Linked DNA regions of Homo sapiens. The protein of the gene in region 1 purifies or fractionates together with the protein of each later gene. This does not show direct contact. Each region holds a gene or a part of one and is shown on either strand. Other genes may lie near its edges.

Region 1 (5,321 bases):
TTCATGAAACCAAATTAAGAGCCTAAGATACAGAGGAATAAGAATTAATTACATAGAAGTGATTGAATTGATAATAAAAAATGAATTTCTAAATGTGGATATATGTTTTGGAATATTACTAGTATTATTTTTAATGTTTTATTTTTTCAGGGGGAAAACCCTTTGGCATTCATACTGCTCTATCTCTAATCCTCTATTCAGCTAACTCTGATTTTGCAAACTAAATGAAATATTATTTTAATGGTAAATTGTTCTCACTGATCTCTCAGAATTCAGGAAGTAATTTGAGTCACTTTACTTTTTAATGGCAATATCATCTTTTGCATAGGCTTGATAAGAATCCGTCATCCCTTTTACCACAATGTAGTCAAACAAATAGACCATGCAACCAAGATCAAGTCTAGAGTGTCAAATTTAAAAATAAGCCTCATTTCAACAAATACGATACGCCCACTATTAAAGAAAAAATATATAACTTCATATTTAGAGCAATATCCACAAAGCTCTCCCAAGAAGTCAAAACTGTTTATGACTTAACAGGCCCAACCTTACAGGCAGTACAGAAGGTCACTTCCTGGATTGCCAAGAACCATACCAGATTTGGAAAATCTGGAGGAAAGAGAAATTCACCAACACTTAGAGATGCTGAACATGAAACCTAGCAGAGATGAATTTCTTGAATTTGGTTCCCTATCCTTGGAACAGAAGAGCAAATAGAAGCATTTAAGGAAGATGTCCGGAGTAATGGAAGCCATTAAAAATGCTCTCCCAGATTTCTTGATAAGTTATCGGATAGAAGTTAATATTCTGGCTTTATAAATAATAGTTGCTCTGCATGGTATAGCATTCTATTTGCTGTCCATATACAAGACTTTTGTATGCTAATTAAAACATCTTCTGAATTTCTGTCAATGAAGCAAGCCCAAACACAATGCCATTTTGTGACCATGAACAGTCTGCAGAGATTATTTATGGTAATAAAGAGGAAAGTCATACTGAGTACTGTATAACTGACCCACTCAAAGACTGTCTAAATTCTCTAAGGGTATGCACATTTGTTTTCATTCACTATTGTCAGTTAGGGTATTTGAAAACTCTGTAAGAACAGACATCAACTTATCAAAAACTATGAGTGATGCAAATGATTACTGCTCTAAAATGTCAAACGTATTTCCTTCTGGATGGATGCAAATGGTTTCTGTCCATTATAATCCAAAGGTTACAACAGGGGTGTCCAATCTTGGGCCACACTGGAGAAGAATTGTCTTGGGCCACACATAAAATACACTAACGATAGCTGATGAGCTTAAAAAAAAAAAAGGCAAAAAAAATCTCATAATGTTTTAAGAAACTTTGAGTTTGTATTGGGTGGCATTCAAAGCCATTGTGGGCCTTGTGCGGCCCACAGGCCACAGGTTGGACAAGCCTGGGTTACAATTTTATTGTCCTATAGGGTATCAACCAGTTTTGTGATTCAAAAATCATATTCTAGAATATTTTAGCGACTAAAACACTGATAATCCTACTGTGTTGCTGTAAATCAGCTTTACTATCCTGCAGCTTCTCTTGTTAAGGAAATCATGAATCAAAAATGAATCAAAGTAATCTCTCACAGATATTCATTCTAAGAGAAAAACCTGTGCTTAAAAGAGAAAGGAAAAATGCAGTTGTTTGTTCTCATTCATTGGTGAGACTCTCAAGGGATGTTTCCCCGTCTTATTTTCAATATTTCAACAATAAGTATAAATTCATTTTAAATGGAAAAAGACAACTCAATAGATCTTGTGAGTATGTGTAGTTTGGAATCACTGTACGTGATAAGAATCAGAGCTAAAGATAGTAAGGTTGTGTATGAACAGTGTGGAGAAAAGCTGAGCACCACTGAGGCAACTCCAACTTTCTAGACAACTTGCTATAAAGACAAATTTACTACCTAATTCTTGGTGAGTCATGATTTCACTGACTACTTCTCATAACCATACACAAGCAAATTTAATGATATAAATAATACAAGTCAGCATTTCCTCATAGTCTTAAAGAGAAGTTTGTAAGACTCAGAAATTTCATAAAATTCCCAACTCCTCTGTTATGTTTTTAAAGAATTTATACTTGTGAGAAGTCCGCAGAGCAACTAAATTAACATTAATTCCTGGAGGCCTTCAAGATAGCCAAACAAGCCTATTAATAGTGATATGGGAAGAAGAAGGATAGCAGGAGAGAAGAGAAAGATAGCAGCTGTGGCTAGTGAACATGAATATCCTATATTCCCACATATCCTGGAGTCCATCTCCAAGGCTGCCCTGTAGATGCTGGTTAATGAAACAGTGAGGTCAATCACTGTTGAGATGAAGATTACCAATCGCTCCATTTCCTGCTCCCTGAGTCTTTCCTCCCTCTGCCGCCGGTGATAATCCATCAGGTCATCACGTCCTGAAATGGAGCTAATACTGCTTTTCCGTTCCCGAAGGGCAGGCTGGGGGGTTCCTGAGGCCTGTCTGAGGCTTTCCAAATCTGCCTCATCAAATTCCACAGATCCACAAGAGAAGTTCCTCCTGGTCGCAAAAACTCTGTCTGACTCTCCAGCAAGAAGTGAATGACTCGGGTTTGTCCCCACATATGAAGCCTGATCAAAGTCATCAGAGGCACAGGAGGAGGTGGAGGCCAGAAGCATCTTCCGAGCCACTCGTGGACTGGCAGGGACACTGAGGGTAGAACTTACATAAGGATTGCCTTCAGAAGCAGAGGTTTTATAGGGTAAAGCCCCTGAGCTCAAAGAAGAAAAATTAAGGTAATTGTCATTGTCTATTACGCTATGAGGTAGATCCTTTTCCCCAAGTTTTGTTCGTTTGGAATTGCCCAGAGAGTTTCTTGGAGGCAAGCTGAGAGGTGTCAGCTGGTTCTCTGTGGCTCTGTACAACCTGGGAAGTGATCGGCTGTAGGCTCCCATGTGACTCAGGCTGCTGCTGGAGTACTTCCTAGTTCTCAAATTGATGTTTTCAGATGCAAGCTCCTTGTGTCTAGTTAACTTGGGTTGAAGCGCCAGGCTGTCCTGAATGCTCATTTTCCTGGCTTGCTTTGGGCTTGAAGGCATGCTTGCGGCTCCCGATCTGCTGATAGGAGGCGGGCCAGCATCACTCAGGGAACTTCCATTCCACATGGCCAGGAGCGAGCCAGATGCCTTCCGACCTTCCAGCCCTCCAAGAGAGTAGACATTGTCATGCGATTTATGCCTTGAGCTATATTTGGAATAGGGAGGCTTCTCTGAGAGCCTCAAGGCCCTTTCACTGTCCCGGCCAGTATAATGATCAAAGTCTGCTCTTCCAAGTGGATATCCACTGAGGGAGGATGTAGTGTTGAGTAAAGGAGTTGGAGGTTTCATAGGAATATTTTTGTCAGTTCCATCATAAGAGAACTGCTTGCTTCCCTGGATTTTGGCTAAGGAGGGGCTGCTTCTGACACTGGTTCCCAAAGGAGAAGGGCTTCTCTTTGCAGGCACAGGTTGTGAGAGGGTTAAATAGGAGCCAGAATAGTCTCCATTGGCTTTAAATCTCAGACTGGAAGAGTATTTCTTTGGGCTGAGGCTCTCCATCATGTTTTGGGAATCGTTCTCAACAGAATGCACCACAGAGTCTTCCTCTAAGCTACCATTTTGTAAATCTAGCTCCTTTTGTATGTAGCTATGCTCTTCCATAATCTTGCTGGAATCTGTAAAGAAATAAAACAGAAAATTTTGCCTTAAAGAAGATTTTAAAAGAACAATCCCTTGTTAGGCCTACATCTGAACAAACAATCTTGCAGTCTGACCTAATGCAACTAACAAACACAAACTCAGTTTTACTAAAAAACCTGTTAAAACCATACAGCAAATTAAAGGAGAATAAAGATCATTGACCTGAGATAACTTATGTACAAAAGAGAAATAAAAGGACAGCAATGACATTTGAGCGAAACAAATCCCTAACCAAGTAAAGGTGCAGGATTAGGCTGGTACATTAAAAAAGACAATTTGTCCTTAATGTTCTGGCCCTTCGAGGAACACCTGCTTCCCTAGTGACTAGCTAATGCCCAAAGGCATAATGCAATGGACTTTCCTATAGCTGTCTCTGCTAGAATCATTAACTGTTCAGAAATAAAGTCCTGAGGAAACAAAATTCACATTTGGGCAGAGAAAAAAAAGTTTACGTTAGACACTGATCAATAACATGAGGGTTAGAAGATGGTTCTTTAAACAAGGACTCTGGGAGTTACCTTCTCAACAAAAAGACTTAAAGCTCCTTTAGTCATCAGAGGTAGGTAATAACAAAGAAAAGGGTATTCCACCAATTATTGACACATGGTCGGGATGGTATATTTAAAAACCTGAAACTGTTATATCCTTTAAATTTTCTAGTACCCCAAATGCACTATGCTCATCCTTGCAAATTCTCTCCTCTAGCAGAAACAACTATCAGGACCTAGTCACTCTTCCAGGGACAGATCAGGATTCTATCTTCCACCATTAAAATTTTTAAGAAAATATGTTTTGAACCCTGGTTTGCACAATGTTAACTTAAAACACTAAAGTTTTAGCCAATGAAAATGTCTTTGAATTACAAACTATTACTGCAAATGGGAAGGCTTATAATTCTACCTGATAAAAAAAAATTTTCTTAGATTATCAGCAAAGGGAAAATACAGTTTAAACATTGTCACTGAACTCATGAACCACTATAACTGTCCTCCAACCCTTAGGCACATCAGACACTAATTATGACATCTCTGGTCTATATATAAACAGTATCACATATGGTTAGTAATGGTTTCATAATGTGGTTGTCTCTGTAACTAGGCCACAAGTTTAAGGAAGAGGTTATGTCTAGTATTTTTATCTTCCACCCCTCTAGCTCTTGTTGTCCTATAGGTGAAAAACTTGATGAACATAAGCTTTCCATTTTAATCAAAGCCTTCCTCACTCCCTCTCAGCCATGGATTAAGGACCTTCACCCTGTTGCTTAGCTTCACACACTTTGTGAGCAAATTCAGGCAGCCTAGTAAAGAGCTGCTTCTTTATCCAGAAGGCCAAGAAACAGTCTGGCTGCATAAATCCTGGTGATGGGCCAGGTACCCAACTGTCCATAAAGGTGCCTTGGGCTCCTTCTCCTCTAACCCAAAGCCCTGCCCAGATAGATACAAACATAATTTATCTTTTTAAATGTACCTCAAGAAAAAAATGAAGTTTCTTCATTATATTTGGCTCCCAGCTGGGATCTAGTCCTGCCATCTAGCTCTTGGTAAGGCTTTCATTTCCTCCAGGACAGTGCCCTTTCTGCCTCCAAGACAAA
Region 2 (3,500 bases), on another chromosome or scaffold:
CCAGGAGGAGGGGGCGTTAGGAGGGGGCCGGCCCCGGAGGAGGGGGCATTTAAGAGGACACCCAGGGCCAGGATGAGGGGCTGTTAGGTGGGCACTGGCCCAGATTGGCCCTGCCTCTAAGCACACGGAGGCCTGTTCCTGGGACAGAGCCGCAGGAAGGACAGGGCGGATGCCTGAGTGCTTAAGGCCTTCGTCCCTCCAGCTGGCCACACCCAGCCCCCCAGCTGGGCCTCTCTTCACTTTCCAGAGCCTCTCCCCTTCCTGCCTTCTCCTGCTCCAGGATGAGTCCAACCGATCCCGGGGAACACAGCCCTGAAGGTCCCAGAACAAAGCCCCAAGTGGAACCCCACGATGACAGGGACCCTCTTAGCTCATGGGACGACGGCACGACCCCCAGGCCCAAGGGGGAAGGTGAGCGGGAGAACACTGACTTGTCTCGCCCCGGCCTCACTTTCACCCGGAAGAGGCCATACACAGGGCGGTGGTCGGACGTCTTGATCCCGGGGCAGGAAGAGTAGCTCACAGGACAGATGTCACCCTTGTGGCGGCTTCTGTACAAGACGCGGTCCTTTGGGAAGATTGCAGAGGCAGGAGGTCCAGTTACTTGTGAGGAGCCGTGGGGCGTGGCCCGCTCACCTCCCTGCTGTTCTCAAGCGCCCCCCACAAGGAAGCCTTCTGGGACCCCTGACACTCATGCCCATTTTGTTGCCTGGCGTCTGTGGCCAGCTGGGCCAGGGCCTGTCCCTCGCCGCTGGAGAGACCCTGTGGACAGCGGCTGCTCCTACCCTGCCCTGCCTCAGTGGCTTCTTGAGGCTTCCAGCAGATATCCAGATATCGGGACATGCCCAGAGATGCAGCCATGGGCCTGGCAGGAGGGTGAGCGAGGGTGCAACGGGCAGAGGGCAGAGGCTCTGCAGGCCGGAGGCGAGGGCATGGCTGGTGCCCTGTGTGCCAGCCGGCTCACCCAGCCTTGAAAACACCCATGGAGAGGGCGCCGTTCTCCACCAAAGGGGACTTGCCACAAGGCCAAGGTGCAGAGCTGAGTTTCAAGTCCAGGCCGTCCAGGCTCAGACCCCTGACGCCAGGCATCGGTTCCCGGCTGTGGGAGATGCCTGCCCTGGAAGCACTCTGCACCGCAGCGGTGGGCAGGCCTCACCGTGTATGAGGGCGTCCTCTGCTTGGAGGTGCTGTCGTACGTGTCCTTCCCGATGTCAAACTTGTATGATGGGAGGAAGTGGATGTCCGGCTCCTGGAAGCCCTTGAAGATGGACCCTGCCACAGGATGGGCACTCGGACTGGCTCAGACCAGCTTGTGCCAGCCGCCGCACCCCAGGCCCTCACCTCTCCTCATCTCCCACCACGCCCACCCTCCCCCCACCCGCCGCAGGCCCTCACCTTTCCTCATCTCCCGCCACGCCCGCCCCCCCAGGCCCTCACCTCTCCTCATCTCCCTCCACGCCCGCCCCCCAGGCCCTCACCTCTCCTCATCTCCCTCCACGCCCGCCCCCCAGGCCCTCACCTCTCCTCATCTCCCTCCACGCCCGCCCCCCCAGGCCCTCACCTCTCCTCATCTCCCTCCACGCCCGCCCCCCCAGGCCCTCACCTCTCCTCATCTCCCTCCACGCCCGCCCCCCAGGCCCTCACCTTTCCTCATCTCCCTCCACGCCCGCCCCCCCAGGCCCTCACCTTTCCTCATCTCCCGCCACGCCCGCCCCCCCAGGCCCTCACCTTTCCTCATCTCCCTCCACGCCCGCCCCCCCAGGCCCTCACCTCTCCTCATCTCCCTCCACGCCCGCCCCCCCAGGCCCTCACCTCTCCTCATCTCCCTCCACGCCCGCCCCCCAGGCCCTCACCTTTCCTCATCTCCCTCCACGCCCGCCCCCCAGGCCCTCACCTCTCCTCATCTCCCTCCACGCCCGCCCCCCCAGGCCCTCACCTCTCCTCATCTCCCTCCATGCCCGCCCCCCCAGGCCCTCACCTTTCCGCATCTCCCGGATGAGCTGGTCGTGCTGCAGCAGCGCCGGCACGTCCACCACCAGGCCCTGGCACAGGAGGGCGTCCACGACTGTGCGCCCGCCACTCAGGCGGAAGTTGAAGTCTCCAAACCAGAACACCTCATCGAAGCGGGTGGTGACGTCCGCTGCGGCACAGTGGGCCATGTGTGGGCACAGGCAGAGGGACGGCAGGTCCTTCCCCTTCCCCAGAACATGGCCTGGGAGTGGCTCTCAGGGGAAGTGGGTCTTGGGCGCCAGCCGGTGGGGCCGGGCCCTCAGGGGTGGGATTCGCACTGGGACAGTTCCAGAAGGCACCTGGAGCAGCCTCAGGAGCAGACGATGCCCATGGCAGGCGATGGCCACGTCCCTGCTCCTCTCCACACAGCCAGGGGAGGCGGCGGGGCGGGCAGTGGCGAGGACCAGGACCCAGGCTAGTGGGCCACGCCGAGTGGACAGGATCCGCCCACCCCACTAACCGTGCTAAAGAACCGCGAGGGGCCATGCGCTGGGGGCACTGGACGTTTCGGCCCTCGCTTCCCAAAGCTCAGGACGCTGCCTCTTCAGAACTGCCCTAAAAACGACGGGCGCCCGTGTGCGAACCACGGCGGCACCACCCACACGCAGCGTGGACGCCCTCACCTGCGCTGGAGCGATAGGGGTTGGTGTCGGGCACATTTCTGGGCAGGACCAGGGCTTGTACAGTCCTGGTGTAGTCCAGCAGCCGCTCCGCCACCTTCCCGTCACCTGCTGTGGGAACAGAAATGGGGTAGGGACCACAGGGTTCCGGATGCTCGAGTCTCCCTAAAGCGCCGCACCTCTGGACTGTGCCCTGACTGCGCACCCCCGGCAGACGCAACCCCACCGGGCATCCGCTGCCGGGCCCAGCCAGTGACATTTCCGCCTCGGAGGACAGAGCACGGGCCCAGCACGGCACGCCCTCGGTGCCGGGGTCTGCCGGGGGTCCTTGGCGTGCATCTTAGCAAGCGTGGTGCCCACCCCACGGCCCTGGGTGGAAGATGAAGCCAGCGGTCAGGACCCCTGCCTTGGACAGGGTCCCGGTCAGGAGAGGAAGCTGTTCTCACACAGCACCTGCGGTGCGGGCACCAAGCAACTTACAGGTGAAGTGGGACGTGATGAAGAGGAAGGAAGTGCCAAAAAAGGTGAAGCTGATGCCCAAGGCCCCCTTGGTCTTGATCTGAGACACGATGCGTGTGGTCACCGTGGAGCACTCCACCTCTGTGGGAGGGGCAGCCCTCAGCTCACCTGTGGGACGCTGCCACCTTCCAGCCGCGCCCACCCCTCCAGCCGCGCCCACCTGAGCAGAACCAGATGAGGTCCCTGCGGATGAAGAGCGACATGTAGAGCACGCCGTGGGCCGCCGAGGACAGCAGCACATAGTGCGGGCCCAGCGTCTCCTGCAGACGAGTCTCCCACTCCCGCCTGCAGAGGAGGAAGCACGGCCGGCTGGGGGACATGGCCTCCCAGCTCCGCCACCCCCAGACCTGC

Evidence for each region.
Region 2: the proteins of PHLDB2 (region 1) and INPP5E purify together in Homo sapiens (affinity purification with mass spectrometry, with the first as the bait; one large-scale study listed by BioGRID). This does not show direct contact.

Annotation. Positions count from the first base shown.
Region 1 is NC_000003.12:111,882,448-111,887,768, reverse strand, and holds part of PHLDB2 (pleckstrin homology-like domain family B member 2), read right to left. Parts: intron 3,706-5,321; coding exon of another isoform or gene 3,692-3,705; coding exon 2,357-3,691; intron 1-2,356. UniProt on the Homo sapiens protein: Seems to be involved in the assembly of the postsynaptic apparatus. May play a role in acetyl-choline receptor (AChR) aggregation in the postsynaptic membrane.
Region 2 is NC_000009.12:136,429,846-136,433,345, forward strand, and holds part of INPP5E (phosphatidylinositol polyphosphate 5-phosphatase type IV), read right to left. Parts: intron 3,435-3,500; coding exon 3,310-3,434; intron 3,231-3,309; coding exon 3,111-3,230; intron 2,742-3,110; coding exon 2,634-2,741; exon of another isoform or gene 2,471-2,633; intron 2,141-2,470; coding exon 1,979-2,140; intron 1,273-1,978; coding exon 1,157-1,272; intron 569-1,156; coding exon 432-568; intron 1-431. UniProt on the Homo sapiens protein: Phosphatidylinositol (PtdIns) phosphatase that specifically hydrolyzes the 5-phosphate of phosphatidylinositol-3,4,5-trisphosphate (PtdIns(3,4,5)P3), phosphatidylinositol 4,5-bisphosphate (PtdIns(4,5)P2) and phosphatidylinositol 3,5-bisphosphate (PtdIns(3,5)P2).